3 separate regions of the Homo sapiens genome follow, and all the other regions are linked to region 3. The links come from fine-mapping of genetic effects on gene expression. A gene starts in region 3. Each other region holds a variant in brackets. All regions are shown on one strand. Distances are between the middles of the regions.

Region 1 (8,073 bases), 39 kb before region 3:
TTCTCTTTCTATAGTTATTAATATGTTCATGGAAGTATTACTTATACAAAGGAGACTTGTAAGAAACCCAGATTGCTATGCTGTTACTGCTGCTAGGTTCTAGGAAAATACCCTTTAACCTTTAAGATTTTTACTTGATAAATTTGTTGCACCATTACTAATATTTCAACTGACAGGTCTTTATGTATTCCTGAAAGGTTTAATTTCTTATAAGATTTTTTTTAGCCAACACAGATGGATCATTAGCAATTCAAAATGTCAAATTCTAAATGACAACAGGCAATAATAATGTCTAATAATATCTATGCTCTGCAGGTCCCTGATTCTGGTCTTGAATAGCGGAGGAGGAAAAGAAGATGATGGGGGAAAAGAAAAGAAGCCATTTATGCATCCCTCCCTAATTCAGTATCCGAGCATGAGGGAGTGTCAAGCTAGTGGGGAAGAAGAGAGGGTTTAGTTTTGAATGAAGTTGGGAGTTTTTATTATTGCACTGAACTAAATAGGCATTTTACTAAAGTCAAGACTGTTCTTGTTATTTAAAGGAACGGGATCATCAATGGAACTCTTTGAGATTTCATCCAGAGGCTGGGAAAGAACATTCATGGTAGCTTTTATTATTATTTTCATTATTGTAAGTTGAGGAAGAGAAAACCCAGGAAAATATACAAAGAGTGATTGGAATTAATAAGAGTAAAACAAGGTGGCTGTATAAAAGGTCAATATTCAAAATCAATTTTGTTATTACTTACTAGCAACATAATTTTTTTTTTTTTTTTTTGAGACAGAGTTTCACTCTTGTTGCCCAGGCTGGAGTGCAACGGCGTGATCTTGGCTCACTGCAACCTCCACCTCCCGGGTTCAAGCGATTCTCCTGCCTCAGCCTCCCGAGTAGCTGGGATTACAGGCATGCACCGCCACACCTGGCTAATTTTGTATTTTTAGTACAGATGGAGTTTCACCATGTTGGTCAGGCTGGTCTCGAACTCCTGACCTCAGGTGATCTGCCCGCCTCAGCATCCCAAAATGCTGGGATTATAGGCATGAGCCACCGCACCTGGCCAGCAACATAATCTTTCTTTAAAAATATACCTGTTCACGACTGAGGCTCAGGGAAAAGAAAAGGAAAAAAAATACCATCTACAGTAGCAACAAAATATAAGATTTTCAGAATCAATCTAACAAAAAATGTACAATATGTACAGGAGAAAATCCTGAAATGTTACTGAAAAAAATTAGGAAATATCAATAAATGGAGTGCTATATCATATTCCTGGAAGGATTCAATAGCATAACAATGTTAACTCCCCCAAAATTGATCTAGAAATTCAATTCTATTCCAATCAAAATGCCAGCAGAGTATTTGTGGGTGTGATTTGATGCTCTGATTATATAATTCAAATAGAACAACAAGGATCCAAGAATAACCAGAACAACTTTAAAGAACAAGGTGGGTGAACTACCTCTACCACATATTAAGTCTCATTATGAGATACAGTTTTTAAGACAGCCTGGCATTAGAGTAAGGACAGAAAAACAAAAGAATAAAACAACATAAAGAGAGAAACACGACAGAAAAAGAATATACAAAACAGAAACAGACCCAAACATATAAAGAAACTTGACAGGTGACAGAGCAGCATTAACTATTCCTGGACTGATTATCCATGTGGAAAAAGTTAATCAGATTTCCACCTCATACATACAAATTTATTTATATAAAATAAATTCCAGATGAATTAAACCTAAATGTGGAAAGCAAAACTTTGAAAATACAGGAATATGTAAAAACATATATGTATGATCCACATATATGATAAAATGGAGGATAGCAGGGCACAGCAGCATGCACCTGTAGTCCTGCCTCAGCCTCTTTAGTAGGTGAGGTAGCTGAGGCAGAAGAATCACTTGAGCCCAGGAATTCGAGGCCAGCTTGGGCAACATAGCAAGACCCAGTCTCTAAAAACAATTTAAAAAGTTTACAAAAAAGAATAATAAGGCATAAAAGGGTTTCTTAAAAAGCACAAACAATAAAGAAAATCCTGATAAATTCAGTAACATTAAATTTAGAAACTCACGTCTAACAAAAGACACTAATTTTGAAAAGTCAAAGATGGGCCACTGACCTAGAGTAAACATTTGCAAAACATAAAGCTATCAAGGATTATTATCTAGAATGAATATATGTATAATTATACTAGAATGAATATATATATATATACACACACACACACACACACACATACACACACACATTTTTTTCTACCAATCAATAAGAAAAAAAGATTATAGAAACATTGGCAAGGGATATAAACAGGTAATTAACAGAAGAGCCTGGCATTAGAGTAAGGACAGAAGAAGAGATGGATGGATGGTCAATGAACATGAGAAATATACTTCCTTTCACTGGTAATCAGGAAAATGAAAGAAACAAGATACCATAACCCAGTGAATTTACAAAAATCTTAAAGTTTGACAATAACAAATGTTGACAAAGATGCTGAGTTATGGAAACTCTCAAACCCTGTTAATGGGAGAATAACCTGGTGTAACTGCTTTGAAGAGCAAATTGGTAATACCTAGCAAAATGAAAGTGCATATATTCTACAACCCAACAATTTTGCTTCTACCAGCTATCTTAGAGAAACACTTGCATTATGTATACAAGAAGTTATGTACACAAAGGTTTGCTGTAGCATCTTTGTAACTCCCAAATTTGGAAACAATGTAAATGTCTATCAACAGGAAAATGAATAAGAACATTGTGGTTTATTAACTCAATGGATTGAATGAACTAGAATAACATACTGAGGAATATCACCAGTGTTGAATGAGAAAAGCAAAAGGAAGAAGTATATATACCATTTATTTAAAGAAAGAGAACATGCAAAACAATGCTATATATTGTTTAGTATGTATACACTGATATATAGACTGCTTTTACTACATTATACATGTAATAAAAGCACGAAGACATGGGAATAATATTTCAATGCAGAGTGCTTATTTCAAAAGGTGTAAGGGGGACAGTGGAGCTTCAACTGTGTTTCATTTCTTAGTCTAGGTGGAAGCTACACAGAAATGTGTTATAATGTTTTCTATGCCTTTCTGAGTGTCTAAAATATTTCAGAATAAAAAGCAAAGTTTGAGGAGATTGTTAGGGACCCCGACATTTGGTTGAGAAGGAATCCTTTGGTAATTTCTCTTACAGGAGTTTTCATAAGTAGCTGTTACAAAAAAGATACATAAGTTAAAAAGAGAATGAGAATCGAAGCTGGAATTGTAAAATGAACATTGGCAAGAAGTAAAAATGGAGTGCAGGAAAATTAAAGATTTGTAGAATGCAATGGGAGTCTTGGAAAGAGATTGGTTTTCTGTGAAAATACCACATACATTTGACTGCTTAGAGAAAGCTTTAGATTGGCAGCCCTTAGGATACTGGAGAAAGGGAAAATCCAGCTCAACCTTAATGAGGACAAGACTGCTCTTTCCTCCAACTCCAGGGGACTTTTGCAAGGGCTCAGTGAAGGAAAGGGGTAAGGAAGGGACGGGTGATATTAGTTTAGTGGAGGCTCTGTCCAGTGGTCTGAGCCCTCCCCACAGCCGAGGCTTTGAGCACTCTGACCTACATATTAAAATTCCATCTGCCTTGGTGATTTGGTTTGAATATTTATCCCCTCCAAATCTCATGTTGAAATGTGATCCCCAGTGTTGCAGGTGGGGCCTGGTGGGAAGTGTTGGGTCATGGGGGTGGATCACTCATGAATGAGTGTCCTCCCCATGGTAATGAGTTCTCACTCTGAGTTCACATGAGATCTGGTTGTTTAAAAAGCCTGGCACCAGCCTGGCGCAGTGGCTCACACCTGAAATCCCAGCACCTTGGAAGGCCGAGGTGGGCAGATCACAAGGTCGAGATCAAGACCATCCTGGCCAACATGGTGAAACCCTGTCTCTACTAAAAATACAAAAATTAGCTGAGCGTGGTGGCGCATAACTGTAGTCCCAGCTACTCGGGAGGCTGAGGCAGGAGAATCGCTTGAACTCCAGAGGC[G/A]GAGGTTGCAGTGAGCCAAGATTGCGCCACTGCACTCCAGCCTGGCGACAGTGCGAGACTCTGTCTCAAAAAAAAAAAAAAAAAAAAAAGAAAAAGAAAAAGAGCCTGGCACCTCCTCCTTCACTCTCATGCTCCAGCTCCCACCATGTGATATGCCTTTCACCATGATTGTAAGTTTCCTGAGGCCCTCACCAGGAGCAGATGCCAGTGCCATGCTTCCTGTACAGCCTGCAGAATCATTAGCCAATTAAACTTCTTTTCTTTATAAATTATGAAGTTTCAGGTATTCCTTTATAGCAACACAAAAACAGACTAACACACTTGGTCTCACCTGAACTGGGATCTCCTGGGCCTTCTTTCTCTGCCATCCATGGCTCTTCTCCTTTCTCTAACTGGGATATCACACTAGGTTTGGAAAGTTGATATCCTGCTTATGTAGTAAAAAAAACAGTGTGAATGTTTATGCTGATGTCTAAGAACCATCCTCAGAATTTTGAGTCTTCTGGTATTCAGGGTCTCCACAAGTGGAAAGGGGTGGGTCTTTCTATCCTAACTATGTGTAGTAAAGTTGTTCCCCAAGAAAGTCAAATTGGATATGCCCTCACTTGGTTTTCAAAGGGAATAAGACATCTTTAATACAGAACCCAAATCAAGCCTCAAGGAATCTACACATCAATAATTTAAAATAATGACTCTCCTGTAATGGGTGGGTTTCTGGATGCATGGATAGCCAAGTCTTACCCACTGACACCAAGTTGCTGTAGTTCTCCAGCATCACCTCTCGGTATAGATTCTGGTGAGCAGGAGCCAGCTGCCCCCACTCTTCCTGGGTGAAGTCAATAGATATGTCCTTGAAAGTCAACAATTCCTAGAACATCAAATACATTCATTTTTAGCCGGAGACCACCTCTGTTAAGTTCCAAGGAGTTCTGACAGTATTCTAAATTCTGAGAGATTCTAAACTTACTTTTATCAGGAGCCTTCTCTGGATCTGTTTGGAGATCCTCTGATCTCCAAATCTGATCAACAAAACTGTCTGGAACTGTAGTCTGTCTGGATCTCTAATCTGGAGATTACTATAAATAATGTAATATATAGAAAGACAGATGGTGATACATACCTTAGAAAAAAATTAAGCAGGATAAGAGACATTGGGAGAACCACAGTGAGGGTAGGATGATCTTTTATGTAAAGTGGTTGGGGAAGACTCTCTAAAAGGGTGATGTTTGACCGGAGACATAAATTCAGTAAAGGGAAGAACCACATGGAAATCTGAGAGAAGAGCATCCTGGGCAGGTGCAAAGGACCTAAGGTGACAGTGTCCTTGGCTTGAGGAACAGGAAAGTGAACAGCATGGCTGGAGGTAGGCTGGTTGATGAGAGAGTGGAAAGAAATGAAATCAAGAGAGGTGGAGATGAGGAACAGGGTGGGATAGGGGTTCCCCCACCACCTCACGCACTTATTGTCACAAAGACCTGTGCATTCTTACTGAACTTGAATTCTGAGGCCCTGCTGGAGTTTAATGCAAAAATGAACAAAACTGTCTGGAACTGTAGTCTAATCCCTTCCTAAGCTCAAATGCCAAAAAGATAAAAAGAAAAGCCCTCAGCAATTGTGGCATGGGCTAATCAGAAGTATACTCAATCAAATTAAAGCTGCATGATAGCCAGAGCTCAGCCACAGCTCTAGGAGGAGCCCCTCACCTTAACCACCAGAGAGACGAAAGGGTTTGGAAATAGAACAAATCAAAACACATGAATAAACTATGTGTGTGTGTGTGTGTGTATACATACAAAACACACACATGTATGTATGTATATACACATGCACTCCTGCCTTGGCCCCTCAAAGTGTTCGCATTACAGGCATGAGACACCGTGCCCGGCTTAGAGATCACTTTTTTTTTTTTTTTTTTGAGACAGAGTCTCACCCTGTTGTCCAGGCTGGAGTGCAGTGGTGCGAGCTCAGCTCACTGCCACCTCCCGGGTTCAAGTGATTCTCCTGCCTCAGCCTCCCAGGTAGCTGGTATTACAGGCGCACGCCACCACGCCCAGCTAATTTTTGTATTTTTAGTAGAGACCGGGTTTCACCATGTTGGTCAGACTGGTCTCGAACTCCTGGCCTCAGGTGATTCGCCCACCTCAGCCTCCTGAAGTGCTGGGATTACAGGCGTGAGCCACCGCGCCCGGCCTGAGAGATCACTTTTTACTGTGATATGCAATTTACCGGAGAGATGAAGTGCTAATGCAGAGATGCTTAGCATCACACTGAATTTTAAGTAAATACTTGAAACACCTGAGCGCACTACAATAGCCACAGGAGATAGCTATAAAATTATCATACTAATACACTAGGTGTACTATAGTTTATTTTATGCAGTAGTGATTTAATACTGCATCTTTACATTTGTTTACATTTCTCTCAACTGAGAATGGCACCATGAATAGTCTGTGCACATAAGCTTTGAAAATTTTTAACTTTTTATAATAGATACGTGTATCTCTTATGGTAGTAAATGATAAAATAGACTAGTACCTACATATATTTTATGTATTCATAACATACCTAACTTTTTCTTAATTTTTTTGATACTCCTAGGCTACATGGTCCATCTGCAAGTTTTTTCAAATTGTCACAAATCTCCAAAAAATGTTTCAATATATTTATTGAAAAAAGTCTATATAGAAGTGGACCTGCACAGTTCAAACCTGCGCTGCTCAAGAATCAACTGTAGGCCGGGCGCAGTGGCTCATGCCTGTAATCCCAGCACTTTGGGAGGCTGATGCGGGCGGATCATGAGGTCAAGATATCAAGACCATCCTGGCCAACATGGTGAAACCCTGTCTCTACTAAAAATACAAAAATTAGCTGGGCATGGTGGTGCATGCCTGTAGTCCCAGCTACTCGGAAGGCTGAGGCAGAAGAATCACTTGAACCCGGGAGGCGGAGGTTGCAGTGAGCCGAGATCTCGCCACTGCACTCCAGCCTGGTGACAGAGCAAGACTCCATCTTAAAAAAAAAAAAAAAAAATCAACTGTAAATGAAAATTCTACAAGTGAAAAAGACAATATCTAAAAATTCATTGGATGGGCTTAAAGTAGATTAGACCATGATGAGATAAGATCAGTGAAACTTAAGATGGGTCAATAAATATTATTCAAACTAGAGTACCAAGAGAAAAAAATCTGTGGGATAATATCAAGTGGTCTATTATACATGTAATTAGAATCTCAGGGCTAGGTGGGATGGCTCCTGCCTGTAATCCTAGCACTTTGGAAGGCCAAGGCAGGAGGACTGCTTGAGCTCAAGAGTTTGAGACCAGCCTAGGCAACATAGGAAGACCCTGTCTCTACAAAAAAAAATACAAAAATTAGCCAGGCATGGTGGCGCACACTTGTAGCCCCAGCTGCTCAGGAGGCTGAGGCAGGAGGATCACTTAAGCCTGAGAGGTAGTGGTGGGAGGGAGGGAGGGAGGGAGGAAGAAAGGAGGGAGGGAGGGATGGAGGGAGGGAGGAAGGGAAGGAAGGAAGGAAGGGAGGGAGGGAGGAAAGGAGGGAGGAAGGGAGGAAGGGAAGCAGGGAGGGAGAAAGAGCAATCTCAGAAGAGGGAATAGGTAGAAAAAATATTTGAAAAATAATGGCTGAAGATTTTCCAAACTAATAGGAAAAAAAATCAACCCACAGATCCAAGAAGCTCAGCAAACCCCAAAAAGGATAAACTCAAAAATCACAGCAAGGCACAGTGGCTCATGCCTGTAATCCCAGCACTTTGGGAGGCTATGGTGGCAGATCACTTGAGGTCAGGAGTTTGAGACCAGCCTGGCCAACATGGTGAAACCCCATCTCTACTAAAAATACACAAAATAAAAAATAAAATAAAATAAAATAAGGCGGGTGTGGTAGTTTACATCTGTTATCCTAGCTACTTGAGAGGCTGATGTGAGAGGATTGCTTGAACCCAGGAGGTGGAGGTTGCAGTGGGCCAAGATCATGCCACTGCACTCCTGCCTGGGTGACAGAGCAAGA
Region 2 (8,073 bases), 32 kb after region 3:
ATATACAACACCCACAGACCCTTCTGAGAGTCTGACAGGAGCTTTAACCTTGAGGGAAGGGACTCAAAGGTGTGCACACTTCTCCCACAGTTTAAGTGCCTTCTGCCAACAACTTCTAAGGTGCTGGTGCCAGGAGAGGACTGGGGAGGACGTTGGGATGGCTATGGGGCATGTACAACATAAAGCAACAGAGAGGTCTTCATGTTTGGGAAGTGGCTGGGCAGGATGCCAAACCCCAAATGACTTATTGAGCAATTTCTAAACCAAACAGAGAGGTAGGAAAAGAGGATGGGGGTCAGGGGTGGAGGCTGTGGAAAGGGGAGAGCGAGGGCTGAAGAGAATGGCAGCCATACAGGTGTTTTGTTTTTATTTCCACATCTGAGGACTGAGAGTCTGATTTGCTGCCTGTCCATTTCCGCCACTCATTGACTGTCCATAGTTCATCATGCCATTGGCTCCATAGAAGTTCATCCCAGCCATCTGCTGGGTCATCTGAAAGGGAGAGAGGAGACTTTCAGACCAGGCTGTGGGCATTCCGCCAATTAGTGCAAAAGGCAGGGTGAGAGTCCCTTTCTCTGCCAGGATGGGGAGAATGAGACAAAGGGAAACTCTGTTATGGACAGTAAACCCTGGACCTTAGCAGTCAGATCATTTCAAGGCCACGTACGTGAATGACCTTTTGGGAGTGCAATGCTGACGGAGACTAAAGCTCAGGGAGGGAAAGAAGGCATCCTGGCATCTGGATCTAGTCGACAGAAAATCAGCATGAGTTCCTCTCTTTTTCCTTTCCAGTCCCTCATCCTAAATAGAAGGGGCCTATTGTTAACTTGCCTGGCCAATCCTAAAAGCTGAAAGGAAAGCCCCCTCCCCAGTGCTCCCGCCTCATCTTCAGCACAGCTATTACTGTCAGTGTCAGGGAAAGCGCTTGAGCAGGCTTGCTCGTTTGCACAAGGGGGAAAAAAAGGAACTGGACTGTTCAGAATGAACAAAGGCGGTGGCGGGGCGGGGGCGGGGGAAGACTAATGTGTCTTCAGTGTATAAGAAGGGAAGGAGCTGGGAGAAAACAGTCAGTGGAATAAGGCCTGGGGCAGGATGGGGCGGGGGTCCTTCATGAATCTGATGGAAAGACTGGCCCCTAGCAGTGAACAGAAAAATACTTTATGGAGAAAAATGCCTTGAATTTCCTAAGCCTAGTAAATTTTCTATATAAGTTATTTTTCTTTAGGAGAAACTATTATTTTCTTGTACCAACTTTTAAAGTAAATTTCAAACTGACATAAAAGTTGAAACAATAGTACAATAAAACCCATGTATCTTCTTCCTTAAATTCACCAACTGTTAACATTTGCCATATTTTCTCTCCCTCCCTATAAAAAAACTTACATTTTTTTGATGAGTATCAAAAGTTGCAGATTAAAAAAAAAAAAAAGCTGCAGCTATCACGACATTTCATTCCTAAGTCAGGAGGCACCTCATAAGAATGAACACTTTAACAGAACCACAAAACAATGAACACGCTCAAGAATTTTAACATTAACACCATATTCTAATGTACATGGCATTTCATTTTCAGATCTCTGTAGTCTCCTTTAAGCTAGACCAGTTTCCCTAACACTTCCTTCCATTTCTTCCTGACACTGACATTTTTAAGAACCCAGGACAGTTATTTTGTAGCATACCCCTCAATTTGGATTCATCTCATGTTTTCTCATAATTGGATCGAGGTTCAATATTTTTGGCAAGATTCTATGGAGGTGACACATGTCTTTCTTAGTACAAAATATCAGGAAGCATATGACATTACTTTGTTCCTCTGTCAGTAATTTTATGTTTGATCACTTGGCTGAGGTAGTGACTATATTTCTTTCATTATAATTAATAAATAATCTGAAGGGCATTTCTTTGCAAATGTGTCAATCCTTTGCTCTTTTTACAACTACTGTCATTCTTCTGTAAAGAAGGCTTTTCCTCCCTCCATTCCACACCTGGTTTTTAAAAAATATCACCGTGGACTCATGGTTTTGTTTTGTTTTTTCCATTCAGTGTGTCATAATCCATTACTGTTGTTACTCTTTTTGATGTTCAAATTGTCTCACATTTGGCCAGTCAGAGCCACTGGAAGTTGGCTCATGCGTCCCTCTGACATATTCCCATCAGACTTATAGCATTCCATTACTTATATAAATAAAAACGAAACAATGAAAATAAGTGAATTAAAATCTCCACTATGAAAGCTAGAAAATAACAAAGTAAACCCATAGAAAGCCTACGGAAATTGAGGTAGAAAACGGAAAAATGTAGCACCAATAAATCGAAATCCTGGTTCTTTGAAAAAAATTAATGAGACTGCTAGGCATAACTTTTGATAAATTTGAAAACCTTGGCGAAATGGAAAATCTAGGTAAATACAGTTTTCCAAAATTGACTTCCATAGAAGAAACAGAGAAAAGTATCAAAGATTTGCTACAAAAAAAGCAATAGTGCCCACAAACTTCACATGGGAATTCCACAAAACCTTCAAAGACCAGAGCTACATAAATTATTCTGGACCACAGAGAAACAAAAACATAAAAGTACTTCTTATAAATAAGTATAACCCTGATAAAGATAGCTATACATGCACATGTGCAGTACACATGCACCATACCACCTCTCTGGGGTTCCTTTGCCTGTCTCTTGGTTTTCACATTAAATCACTTTGTATTTCTTTGTACCTAGTGCAAAACTAGTGTTGCTTTGTTAGCCAATTTGAACATCATTTTCTTTTGATAGAAGAGTTGCCTACTGGTATGACTGGTATGTTTGGTCTCAACTCCATCATATTAGATTTTTACTGTGTTTATTGTATTTGCTGCACTTTGTAGTCTGTTTTTAAAAATTCTCAGCTGGGCGCAGTGGCTCATGCCTGTAATCCCAGCACTTTGGGAGGCCAAGGTGGGTGGATCACCTGAGGTCAGGAGTTTGAGACTAGCCTGGCCAACATGGTGAAACCCCGTCTCTACTAAAAAATACAAAAAAAATTAACCGGGTGTGGTGGCGGGTGCCTGTAATCCCAGCTACTCGGGAGGCTGACGCAGAAGAATCACTTGAACCCAGGAGGCGGAGGTTGCAGTGAGCCGAGATTGTGCCACTGCATTCCAGCCTGGGTGACAGAGTGAGACTTTGTCTCAAAAAAAAAAAAAAAAAAGAAAGGAAGAAAATTATCTTGGTATTCAGAACATTTCACGTGTTTGTTCTAGTGATTACCTTCATAGTAATACTTTTTAGCAATGTCCTTGGTCTCCTTTTTCCTTATTCAAGCTTCCGTGATTTGGTTTGTCAGCTTATTGCATCCTTCGATTTCTACTTCTTTCCCATACAATATTTATTATTCAACTTTTCTCCCTCCTCCTTCATTTTCAGTTGTATTTGTTTGTCAGAATATAATGTATATTCTGCAACGCTTGTCACCACCTTTGTTTTAGTCTTAGATTCTCAATTAAACATTCAATTCTCACCATCAGTTCTTTTGCCAAAAATGAAAATGACCCCAGTCATCTCTTAGGTGGATGAAGCTTATCTTCTGTTAGATTCCCCAGGAAAGTCTTGTAAGTGTGATATTCTCTGAGTTCTTGCATATTTATTTTTTACAGCCTTGATACCTGAAGGATAGCTTGGCTGGCTTGGTTGTAAAATACTTGTTGTGTCTTGCATACACTTGAGTGTCTTTAAAATACTACTCTCCTTGTTATTCTTTTTGTATTTTGCTGCTAGGAAGTCTGATGTCAACCTGGGTATTTTTTGTTTGTTCTAAGTAACAGATTTTTGTGGGTAGGAGGTATGGAAAAGGTTGGACCCCTAAACATTTTGAATGTTCTTTAAAGTCTGTAGATTTGCTGGGATATGTTTTAAAGTTGACTGTTCTGGGTCAATTTTCCCAGACACACAGTGGGCTCTTTCCATATTATATCCAAGTCTTTTATTTCTAGAATGTTTTCTGGTGTTAAACACATTAATACTGTCCCATATTTTATTTATTTTGTCTTTATTTCTTTGGGCATCTCCAAATATATGTAAGTTTTCTTTGCCTAACTTCCATATTAATTTCCATCTAATTCTTTTTACTACTTTCTATATTTAGTTTTCATTCTCTTAGCTGTTTCATGCCTTTCCTCAATGCC[G/T]AATATATTTTCAGCTCAATCTATTGTTCTTTAGCTAACTTGTAATTGAGTCTTTATACGAAAATTTTGGCTTTTTCTTCAATTTCTTTTCTGAGTTTAGTAAACTTTCATTTCACAGCATGCAGTTTTTTATCCATTTTGGCTTTAAGTTTTTGAATTTCTGATTTAAGGTGTTTTGTCTTATCTGCAAATGTTTAAGGACATTTAATTCAGATTGGTAGATTGTGTAACAATTTTCTTCTGCTTCATGACTGTTTTTTGAGGGAGAATATTCATTACGTGAAATGTTTTGATTTTCATTTTCTATTTTCTTCCTGTAGTAGTTGTGTACAAATGTCAGCTTCCATGTTTGGTTCATTTTTGTAAGGTCTTATTTTTTCTCAATCAGCAATAATAGGTGTGAAGGTTTGGGGAGGCTTACTAAATTTCTTAGATTAAGAGCACCATCTTTTATTAGTGAAGTGGTTATTTTGGAAGAGGGAAGAAGGTGTATATTTGATTTTGTGATTCTCATTCCCATTTCTCGTGTCTTTCTTTCCTTCACCACCAGTCCTCTAAAGGGTACCTCCTCCTTTTAGGCCATGCCCATCTCCCCGAGAAGCAATGCTTTCCCAAGGTTACTACCTATACTCCTATATATCTGAAGTCTCTTATTTTTGATCCTCCAAGTAAACAGAGTTCTAATCTACCACATCTCAGACCTGTTCTCAGTATGTCTTTGATGAGGGTAGGTCCTTCTCCTTCTGGGGGGTTACTTTATCTGTGGTATTATTGCTAGGCCCCTGCTCCATCTTCTCTTTTTACAGTCTCCTCTGTGATGCTGGCTCCGCTGGATTTGGTGTTTATATGCCCATTGCCATGCCATTTGAACCTTGCAGTATTCTGTCTACCAAATGAGATTGTTGTGAGAATATCTGCATTCATTGTTTGTACAGGGTTTCTTTGTGTGTTTGTTTTTGCTTTTGAGAATGTGTGGAGAGATTCAGATTTAGGCAGTTGGGCTTATTCTACAGGAGCCCAGAACTCCTCAGAAAGTCTGACTTTAGACAGACCTTCTAGGAAAAAAAAAAAAAAAAAAAGCAAACCTAACAATGTCTCTTACATTATCTCATCTACATGGAAAGGATTCAAAGGATAGTGGAGAGGTACAAACCGAGAAAAACTTGAGGAAGGCTCAAAACTCTTGCTGCAAGTAAAATGGGGTAGCTTACCTGAGTAAGGTTCCATTGCAGCTGCTGAGCTGGCTGGACCCCATACACAGTCTGGGGCATAGCTGCCATGCCTGCCATGTAGCCAGCCTGCTGGGTGGTCATCATTCCATTCGGCACACCCATCATTGATGCCTGCATGCCACCCATATAGCCTGCAGGCATGGCCATGGGGGCAACCATCCCAGAAGCTCCTGGCTGAGCAACCATGCCTACTGGTGGAGGCATCATGCTCCCCATTATGCTGTTAGGAGGTGTAACCCCGGGGAAGCTGGGGTAGGCTGTGGGATATGCCATCTGAGCGGGAGCCATGAACATTGCTGCCAAGAAAACACACATACAGGTTGGTTAAAGAGGGAAAAACATAAAGTCAGCCCGAACTCTCCCTGGCTAACCCTTTCCAGCTGGAATTTCTCAGGATTACTCTACTCACAATGCTCTTTACACAGCAAAGTAGTTAGAGTCCCTACGAGGCCTGCTATAGCTTACCAATGGGCTGCTGACCGAGCCATTTTCCCTTTAGGGTCCAGATCCAGACCTTGAGCTAGACTTCACCGAATTGTGACCCCAGACTCCACAGAAGTATGACTCTGAGTTACATTAATTTCCATCTGCTGATACGTTGGTCATGTTCAGGTTTGTTTGGTGTATGACATCCTGGCCCCCAAAGCAACTGTCCTCTGTCACAATAAATAATTCCTGCATGGAAGCCCTCATGTCTCTACCTGGCACATGGCCATGACACCCATGAAATCTACCTTGAGTAGGCATTTGAGGCGTCTGGGATCCATACAGTGAAAGAATGGAGTCTTTAGAGAGCTGTTTCTTGCCTATTTCTTCTGATTTGCTCCCTGGCTCCGGAAACAGGTTCAGATTTTCAGGAACAGAGCCGGCACTCCCTGCAGTTGGCATGGAACCTACAACCTTAGGGCAAAGAGGGCGGGGGGAGAATTGAAATGGTTCTCATGGGGGTCTCTTTAAGGGTCTCCCTTCCCTCTCTGCTGCTCCTAACATCTGCAATAAGAATTCATGGCTCAAGTTAATAGCTTCCTAACATTTTTACCATTCAACTATCTGAACACACCTGATAATTAAGCTCTGTTACAATTCTTTCCTTTCACCAAAACATGTGATTTGGTAGGAACAAACAAACAAAACAACCCACAAATGATGCAGCAGAGGGAACTGAGTTTAGACCCCAGTGTAGCCATTTACTAGTATAACCACAGGCTAGTCACATAACTTTTACAAACTAATGTCTCCACATCTGTAAAATTTCCACTTTGCAGGTTTGTGGTGAAGGAGTGAAATTATTAATGAAATATACAAAATGATATACAAAAACCACCTCACACTGTGCCTGAGACATAGCAGGCGTTTCACGAATGGTAGCCATTAAAGGTTTCAAGTCTTTCCTACCTACAATTTTCTGGCAGTAACTCAGGCCGAGGAGCTAGCCTCAAGTATCAGCCTTCACAGTATCACACACTTTCCAGAGAAGCAACTCAAATGGCCCACCCTTTTTGAGCAGGAGAAAAAAAGGCATGAACAGCAATCTTAGACTGTGACAGAAATGACACAATGTTAAGGGAAGAATGAAGAATCAAGAAAACCAAAGTCCAACTCCACCAAGGAAGCATGACGTGGTTCCATGATTAAGATATCAAAATCACCCATTTCAGAATGTTCTTTAATCCTGAGGAGCCCACAAGACTCACCTTTCTGGAACCGGAAGAAGAAGGGGATGGAACAGAGGCCAACAGATCTAAATCCTTCTCTAGGGTATTGCTGGTCTTACTATTTGCAATGGAGCAGGCCACAGGAGCATCTAGAAAGAGAGATCGAAGTTAAGATGCAGCACTGCTTATTAAGCCCATGCCTTCCTTCTATTCTAGACAAAAAGCAAAGGTGGCCCATAAGCTCATGGACCTAGAAATCTAGACTTCTGGAACCATCTAGCATGGACGGGGCTTCTCAAAAGAGGCTTCACCCCACATTCCCAGAGTGCTCTGGGGAAGCCTGTAGCCCAGCTATCAGGCACAGGGCAGCAGACGCCCAGGCCTGAAGGGTATTTCAGCACCACAGTGGGGGGCTGGCTGGCTCCCTTCTGGCTATTTGAAGGGCAAGGTATGGAGGAGGGTTCATTTTCAGAGAGCAAGGAAAGGTACAGAAATTAGAAGCCTAAGTAGCCAATAACCTCAATCAGCAGAAGCGGATGGAAACAAAGTGCAACCATCAGTGCTGTGAAAGGCAGACAACAGGCTTTCTTTCTGAAAGGGCAGAATCACTAGTTCAGGATTTCAAAGGTTTGGAGAAAAATGACCACAGGCCATCTCAGAAACAGGTTGCATCTGAAAAATGAAAGGAATGGGGGCAGGGAGTGGAGTACAGGGAATTGACATGAGGCTCAAAGGTGCTGTTTAGCAAAACTGCTAACATTTATGGAGGGCTCAGTATGTGCCAGGCATGGGGCTAAGAGCTTTAGAGGCATTATCTCATTTAATCCTTCCAACAACACCTTTGAAGTAGAGACTCATTCTCACTGCACGGATTATGAAAGCAACATTCAGAGGTTAAGTAAACTACCCATGGTCACACAGACAGTAAGTAACACAGAGCGACACTGGCTCCAAAGGCCATGCTCTTAACCACTACACCACACTGTCGCTCTGAAAAGTGTCACAGTAAACACTTCCTTAGAGCAA
Region 3 (8,073 bases):
CCCCGTCTCTACTAAAAATACAAAAAATTAGCCAGGTGTGGTGGTGGGCACCTGTAGTCCCAGCTACTCGGGAGGCTGAGGCAGGAGAATGGCGTGAACCCAGGAGACGGAGCTTGCAGTGAGCCGAGATTGCGCTACTGCACTCCAGCCTGGGTGACAGAGTGAGACTCCGTCTCAAAAAATAATGAAAAAAAGAAAAAAAAAGAAAAGCCAATCCAGGAAGTTGAGTCAAAGAAAATCAAACTCCTGCGCTCTTAAAATCTGAGAAACAATGTCAAGAAAGTGACCAGAAACTCCAACCCACCTGGGATTCTGCTGTCAGGGATCCAAGGGTCACTCTACTCTCTAAACTTTCGCCCTGGGTCTCATCAGCATCCTGAGACAGCAGAGCTGGGGAAGGAAAAGAGCCATGAGGTTTGCATCTCCCCAAATCACCCAAACAGAGAAACTGCCTACAGACCCACTCATTGTGGCTTCTCCCCAAAAACGTTCACAAACAGGGACATTTAGACGGACTCAAGAGCAGCTCAAAGCCTCCTTAATAAGGAGGACCTGCTGCAAGCTGCTTTCACCATTAATATTTCCCAATGGTCTTAGTAATCTCTCAGGCCAATCTTTTGTTCAAAAATCCTCAAAGGTTTCCCCACTGACATGAAAGAAAAATGCAAACACTTCAATATAGATTTCTTTTTTGTTATTTTTTAATTATTATTATGATTTTGAGACAGAGTATTGCTCTGTCACCCAGGTTGGAGGGCAGTGGCATAATCTTGGTTCACTGCAACTTCCACCTCCCAGGTTCAAGAGATTCTCGTGCCTCAGCCTCCCGAGTAGCTGGGATTACAGGCGTGTGACACCACGCCCAACTAATCAACATAGATTTCAAGATCCTCCACAACCAGTCCATGGCTTCTCCAAGTATTATCTCCTCTAAACATTATCCTTCATCCACTGGACACACCTACCCACACAATCCTGGTACCATTCTTTGAATACATGTGGATAGTACCCCACCCAAATCCTATTTGGTGAAAAACTGCGATACCCTTCAGGCCCAGTTCAAGTAAAGTTTTCCCAGACACCCTTAATGAGAAGAAAGTTTATTCTCTCCTATGCTTCCCAAAAGCTTGGTTTTTATATCTATTCTAGTATCTATCTCAGGTTGCTTTTTATAATTAATTATCTCTCTCAGTTGAGTATTAATGAGGGTATGGATAGAAACTGTACCTTGCTCATTTTTCTCCATCTGCTAAAGTGCTACACATAACACACTGCCAGCTTTCTAGAATTTAAGTAACACTGGCTGAATTGAGGTATTAAAAATATGCACTACAGGCCAGGCCCGGTGGCTCAAGCCTGTAATCCCAGCACTTTGGGAGGCTGAGGTGGGTGGATCACGAGGTCAGGAGTTGGAGACCAGCCTGGCCAAGATAGTAAAACACCGTCTCTACTAAAAATACAAAAATTAGCTGGGCGTGGTGGCAGGCGCCTGTAATCCCAGCTACTTGGGAGGCTGAGGCAGGAGAATCACTTGAACCCGGGAGGCAGAGGTTGCAATAAGCCAAGATCGAGCCATTGAACTCCGGCTTGGGTGACAGGAAAAAAAAAAAAAAAAAACCACTAGGAATTAAGGCACATGAATAACTGTCTTTGTATTTTATTCCAACTTTTTATCATGAATATTGAACATCTATACATCCACATCTAGATTCAACAATTGTTAATATTTACCATATTTGCTTTACCTATCTACATTTTTTCTGAAGCACTTCAAAGTCGTCTGCATCATAATACTTTATCCCTAAATATTTCAAATAAGGATCTTCTCTTGTACAACCACAGTACTATTTATTAAATCTATGAAAATTAACAATAATTCCATAGTATCATCTAAATATTCAGTCCATATTCAGATTTCCTCAACTGTTTCCTCAACTTTTATTCTGGATTTTTTCCAAACCAGGAGTTAATCAAGGCTCACACATTCAAAGTGGTTGTTACCTCTAGTCTCTTTTACTCTAGAATAAGTACTTCCCCTTTCTTCATGATGTTGTCTTTTTAAGATACAAGAACAGTCTGACTGTATCCTCAATGTGAGGTTTATCTCATTTCTCCATCCCCTGTATTTTCTGTAAACCAGCAGTTCAGTCTTTAAACTTAATTTAGGATCATGTTCAACATTTTTGGTAGGAATACCTTGTAGGTGGTACCAGGTGCTTTATATTACAGTATCTGCAAAGTATAAAATGCCCGGCTATCCCATTACTGAGACATTTGATTAAAACTGTGACCACCACACCTCACTATTGGAAAATTATGTTCATTCCTTGCCATTTAGTAAGTAATTTGAGGGGATAATACTTTGATATCATGTGAGTATCTGTTCCCCATTAACCTTTCAATTATTTTATTTACGGTAAAAGATTCTATCATTCTTTCTACATTTATTTATTTATTTATTTATTTTTGAGACAAGGTCTTGCTCTGTCACCCAGCCTGGAGTGCAGTGGCGCCATCTCAGCTCACTGAAACCTCCCCTTTCCTAGTTCAAGCGATTCTCGTGCCTCAACCTCCCGAGTAGCTGGGATTACAGGCATGTGCCACCACGCCCAGCTAATTTTTGTATTTTTAGCAGAGATGGGGTTTCATCATGTTGGCCAGGCTGGTCTCAAACTGCTGACCTCAAACTCCTGGTCTCAAGCAATCCGCCCACCTTGGCTTCCCAAATTGCTGGGATTACAGGCATGAGCCACCACACCTGGCCTCTTTCTACCTTCATTATTGGCACGCATTTTCTGTAAAAAGCTTTCCCTCACCAACTGAAGAGGATCTAAAAGGCAAGGTAAATGCACATTCATTCCCATAATAACCTATTTTTCAAAGTAAGGAATCAGTGTATTAATTACCTCCAATGTTTGCAAATGAATTCCCCCCCCCCCACGTCTTTCTCTATTTTAAGTGTCAAGGTGATCATGTGGAATTTTACTTATTCAAGGTGTTACCATCAGTTTGGATACTTAAGCTTTCCCAAATCTGTCGAGTGAGAGACCCTTAAACCTGGCCTCTTTTGACACATATCCATAGTCTTTAAGCTCTTCCTTGCTTTCTAGCACAAGTTACTCCAGGCTCACCTGGTACTTCCCCTGCTGCTTCTCTTTCTGACCTAGCCACCAAGTTCCTGTGTGACCCTGGGCAGGCCTCCCATTTGATTTACATTTCCCCACTGTTAGAATAAGAAAAATCAGGTTAAGTCCATCCTGCCCCACATGGCCATGGGAAAGATGAAAATAAATAATATACATAACCATGACACTGAAATACTGGTCCTAGGCTGAAAAGACCACCACTACTTAGGAAAACCCCAGACTAGGAGCCACAATCAACAACTCCGGAAACCCTCCACCCACTCGTCTCCCTAAGAGATGCTTCCACTCAAGTGACTCATTCCTTCTCACACTAGAGGGGACTGCTTTTCCTCCCTCCCACCCATCAGTTTATTCTTACCTTCTGCTTTAAACATCTTAGTCACATCCTCCCACAGGGCCACCCGCTCCGTGGCCGCCTTTGGATGACGCAACTTCACCCAGGTGCTGGCCTCGGTGGGCAGGGTGATCAGGAGCTGCTGCAGCATGACGGCGTCCGCACTCCTTTCTGAGGACCCTCTGTCTTAGCCCATAGGGCTTGTCCACCTCTGATGAGGAAATTGCTGGAAGCTCTGACAGGAGGCTTCCCAATTGTACCGATCTCCTTAATCGCCGACTCCTACTCCTCAATGTCCTCTCTCAGGAACCCAGGGAACATACAGTATCAAAATCCGAGATCTGGACTTGTGTCTATCATCGGCTCTCAGGGCGTATCTCCCAACTTGAGCTCCATCTGTCTCCTTGGCCAGCAGCTGGAGGCGCCAAGTATTTACTCTCAGCAGCCCCTGCAGATGCTGAGCAGAAGACATTAGAATCAGCAAAGGACTAAGGAGGCTCAGTCATAGGGCAGAACGCTAGAACATATATGGATCACTGTAAAATGTTTCCAAAAGATACACGGAGACGGTGGGCAGACACAGCCCACAAAATTCAAAGCACCGCGCACATGTCAGGAAGCACAAAGAGACGAATACAACCCAATTCTTTGTTTGGGGCAGTAATTATGTGTAAAGTAGCCGGGGATTTGGAATCCCAGCTCTTTCACTAGTCGGCTGTAGCAAACCGCGAAACCGCTAGACCCCGCCTCCTCCTCCCCAAATGAGAGGCTAAGTCCTCCCCACAAAGCAAAACGCCCCCGGCCCTAGCCTCCCAGCCTTTGTCTGAGCACGACTCCGGGGCTGCGGAGAGCACCGCGCGCGACAGGGTGGCCGCGGGCGGAACTCGCGCTTCCCGGCTCGCCCAGCTCCCCAAGCCCGGGACAGCCACCCGCTCACCCTCTCCCCGCTGGGCCGGCACGCCCCCGCCTTCCCACCGCTGCAGCCGGGTTCCGGCACTGCGCGGCCAAGCTCCCACGTAGCGCTGCGGCGGGCAGTCGGGGCCCAGTGCGCCTGCGCAGCGGCTGGCTAGAGCATGGTTCCCAGCGTCCTCCCGGGGAGCCGCTCCGCCAGCGCAGACGCCCCCACCGGTGCGCGCCGGGTTGGCTGCGTTCAGGGGCTCCCAGTATCCGATCCCTGCGAGCATCATCAGCCTGGCTCCTGCGGGAGGAGATGGAGCCTGCGTTCTTGGGCCCCAGACTCTGATGAAGAACAACCATCTTTCCTCCGCTGGGAAAATGCACGTGAACGTTAGGGTGAGCCTTTGAAACCCGTGACAAAAGGGAGCCATCGGCATCACGTTTTTTGGTGAAACGACACTGGTGTAAAATAATCCATAGCACTTTCCCTAAATATTATGTACATGCCAGTTATTTATTCTCAGCAGACAGTTGAATGGATTCCGGTATATTGTTAAAAGAATACCACAACAGTTTTCTCTTCTAGTATTCAATAAAAGTTCTCATGTTTATTGCTTACCTTGTATTTCTGAAATGCCAGAAAATACACAAAAACAAAAAAATTATTGCCTGTAATTTCAGCAAGCAGCGGTAACCTTGCTAACAGTTGGTGTACAACCTTTCCTGCACACACACAACGTATTTCATGCATTGTTATATATTTTCCACAAAAGCGATTATACTGTAATGCTGTTTTATTGCTGAGTTTTCTCCCTCCAACAAAATTTGAGTACATCACTCCAAATACATTTCTACATCAACAGTTTACAAAAACAACAAATGAGGAAATAGAATACAATTATAGTACTTGCTAGCTGTTATGAACCGAATGTTTGGATTCCCCAAAATTTATCTTGAAGCCCTAACCTCCATTGTATTTGGAGAGTATTTAGAGATAAGGCCTTTATGGAAGTAATTAAGGTTAGAATATAGTCCTAGTCAGAAACGAACCCAACTCGACCTTACTTGGGGCTTCTAGTCTCCACACTGAGAAAATAAATTTCCGGTTTTTTGTTTGTTTGTTTGTTTGTTTTTTTGAGATGGAGTCTCGCACTGTCCGCAGGGCTGGACTGCAGTGGCGTGACCTCGGTTCACTGCAACCTTCGCCTCCTGGCTTAAAGCGATTCTCCTGCCTCAGCCTCCCAAGTGGCTAGGATTACAGGCGCCCGCCACGACGCCCAGCTAATTTTTTGTATTTTTAGTACAGACGGGGTTCCACTATGTTGGCCAGGCTGGTCTCAAACTCCTGACCTCGGTGTCTGCCCGCCTCGGCCTCCCAAAGTGCTGGGATTACAGGCATGAGCCACTGCGCCCGGCCAGATATCCGTGGTTTAAGCCACCCAGTCAATGGTATTTTGTTACAGCAGCCCAAGCTGATGAATACACTAGCATATAATAGTTACAGAATATGAGGCTCTGTCCTAAGTGCCTTTCATATTTTAACTTATTTTGTCATCACAGAAACCACTGGAAGTAAGTACTATTATTATTCCCACTTTACAGATAAGAAAACTGAGATTTAGAGAAGTTGAATAACTTGCCAAGATCATGTGGCTTACAAGTGGTGAACACAGGCAGTCTATGTTCCTATCTGCTACTCAACAAAAATACAGCATGAAATACAATAAAATGTTAATGGTAGAATCTAAGTAGTGGTATAGGGATGCCGTAATGTAAAATTCTTTCAATTTTTCTGTATATGTATATGTTTTCATAATAAAATATCAGAAAAATACAGCTAAGAATAAACAAGAATTATGCAGGAAATTATAAATAAAACTCCAAATTTTTTGTTTAAATGGTGAGAATAGTGATACAACACATTCACGAGTTGAAATAGAACATTCTAAGTATGTCACTCTTCCTCCAGTTCACATAAACTGTGATGCATCCCAATCAAAATTTCAACTTTTTCGGCCGGACATGGTGGCTCACACCTGTAATCCCAGCACTTTAGGAGGCCAAGGCGGGTGGATCACCTGAGCTCAGGAGTTCGAGACCAGCGTGGTCAACATGGCGAAACCTCATCTCTACTAAAAATACAAAAATTAGTTGGGTGTGGTGGTGTGTGTCTGTAATCCCAGCTACTCAGGAGGCTGAGGCAAAAGAATCGCTTGAACCCAAGAGGTGGAGGTTGTAGGGAGCCAAGATCATGCCACTGCATTCCAGCCTGGGTGACAGAGCAAGACTCCATCTCAAAAAAAAAAAGAAAATCAACTTTTCTTTTTACTAAACTAAATGATTCTAAAGTTTAGCTAGTATGGCAAGTGTTCCAGAATGGCCAATAATGTTTTCCAACAATAATGAAGGCAGACTTGCCCTACCAGATATTACCTTGTATTATGGAGGCAAAATAATCAAAATAAAACTAGTGCCAAAATATACTCGGAAATCAGTGAGATGAAATTGGAAACTCAGAAACAGACTTGACACTTTATTTAAATTTAGTATATTGTAAAGCTGGCGTTTCAAAGCAGCTGGGTAATGATGGATTATTCAACAAATATCATTAGGACAACTAGTTAGCCATTTGGGGAACAGTATGAGTCTTCACTGGCTGACAACAAAATACCATAGACTGGGTGGCTTAACCAACAGAAATTAATTTTCTTATAGTTCTGGAGGCTGGGAAGTCCAAGATCAAGGGGTGAGCAAGGTAGGTTTCCTTCTGAGGCCTTTTCTCTTGGCTTGTAGGCAGCCACCATCTCCTTGTATGCTCACAAGACCTCTTCTTGTGTGCTTGAGGAGAGTGAGCTCTCTGATGTCTCTTCTTTTAAGAACACTAATCCTAACAGATCAGGGCCCCACCCCTGTGACCTCATTTAAACTTATTACTTCTATAAAGGCCTCATCTCCAAATACAGTCACTTTAGGGGTTAGGGCTTCGACATACTCGTTTGTGGCAGAATACAAACACTCAGCCCATAGCAAGAACAAATCAAGTTGGGTTCCTGCTGTACATGTTACACATCGTATAATTTCAAGAAAGTAAAGTTTTGTTTTCTTTTTCACTTTTTAATTTTTTTAATTACCCCGTATCCTAGTCAAAGTAAACTTTTGTTTTAAAGTAAAAGCACAACTGTTAACGTGTTCACATAAAGGTGATTCTAGCCATAGTTTTGGGATAAGAAACTATTCTATACATAGGTTTGTGATTAAGGCCCTATTATTTGCAAGTAACTAGCTCACCAGAATTGCTTTCTAAGTTAAAATGATTATTATTATTGTTGTTGTTGGAAGGATTCTGGAGTCTTCAGGAATTCGAGGAAGAACTGGTTAGCCTAGTCTGTGAAAGTTTACGAACCAGCGGATTTCTGAGCACCACAAAGCAAATGCCCAGAGAGATGCCCTCTAAACCACCACCCTTAACATGATTCAGCTCTGGCAACTTTCAGTTGTGTTACTCAGTTCAAAATTCCAAATTTTGGCAGGATCATTTGATCATTTGGCTTTGACCAGGGGCCACGGAGTGTCATGGTAGAAAGACTTGGCTTCTGGGCACCCACCCCATGAACAGTTAGCAGTTCCCAACGAAGGGGAAATGTTTCAGACTAAGGAAAAAGATGAATGCTCCTGAATTTATTCAATAACAGAAGT

What was found. PIP is the estimated chance that this variant, and not a neighbour inherited with it, causes the effect.
Region 1: its variant is the best candidate, but not a certain one, in a credible set for the expression of ZFP69B in lung (TOPMed, PIP 0.75).
Region 2: its variant is the best candidate, but not a certain one, in a credible set for the expression of ZFP69B in whole blood (TOPMed, PIP 0.52).

What each region holds. Positions count from the first base shown.
Region 1 is chr1:40,485,931-40,494,003 of GRCh38, reverse strand. ZFP69 (ZFP69 zinc finger protein) reads right to left here. Exons shown (of 6, transcript NM_001320179.2): 4 at 4,790-4,916; 5 at 4,380-4,475. EXO5-DT (EXO5 divergent transcript) reads left to right here. Exons shown (of 2, transcript NR_187365.1): 2 at 316-2,979. Among named protein-coding and RNA genes, the nearest start is that of ZFP69, 13 kb to the right of the region's middle. The variant G/A (reference allele first, on the strand shown) is at 4,049.
Region 2 is chr1:40,414,395-40,422,467 of GRCh38, reverse strand. It overlaps SMAP2 (small ArfGAP2), which reads right to left. Exons shown (of 10, transcript NM_022733.3): 7 at 7,087-7,196; 8 at 6,127-6,292; 9 at 5,372-5,688; 10 at 1-492. The coding sequence ends at 367. Among named protein-coding and RNA genes, the nearest start is that of ZFP69B-DT, 32 kb to the left of the region's middle. The variant G/T (reference allele first, on the strand shown) is at 4,161.
Region 3 is chr1:40,446,520-40,454,592 of GRCh38, reverse strand. ZFP69B (ZFP69 zinc finger protein B) reads right to left here and starts at 4,117. Exons shown (of 5, transcript NM_023070.3): 1 at 3,505-4,117; 2 at 305-390. The coding sequence starts at 3,631. It overlaps ZFP69B-DT (ZFP69B divergent transcript), which reads left to right and starts at 4,554. Exons shown (of 5, transcript NR_198977.1): 1 at 4,554-4,773. RefSeq lists an enhancer at 2,824-4,023 and a silencer at 4,239-4,498.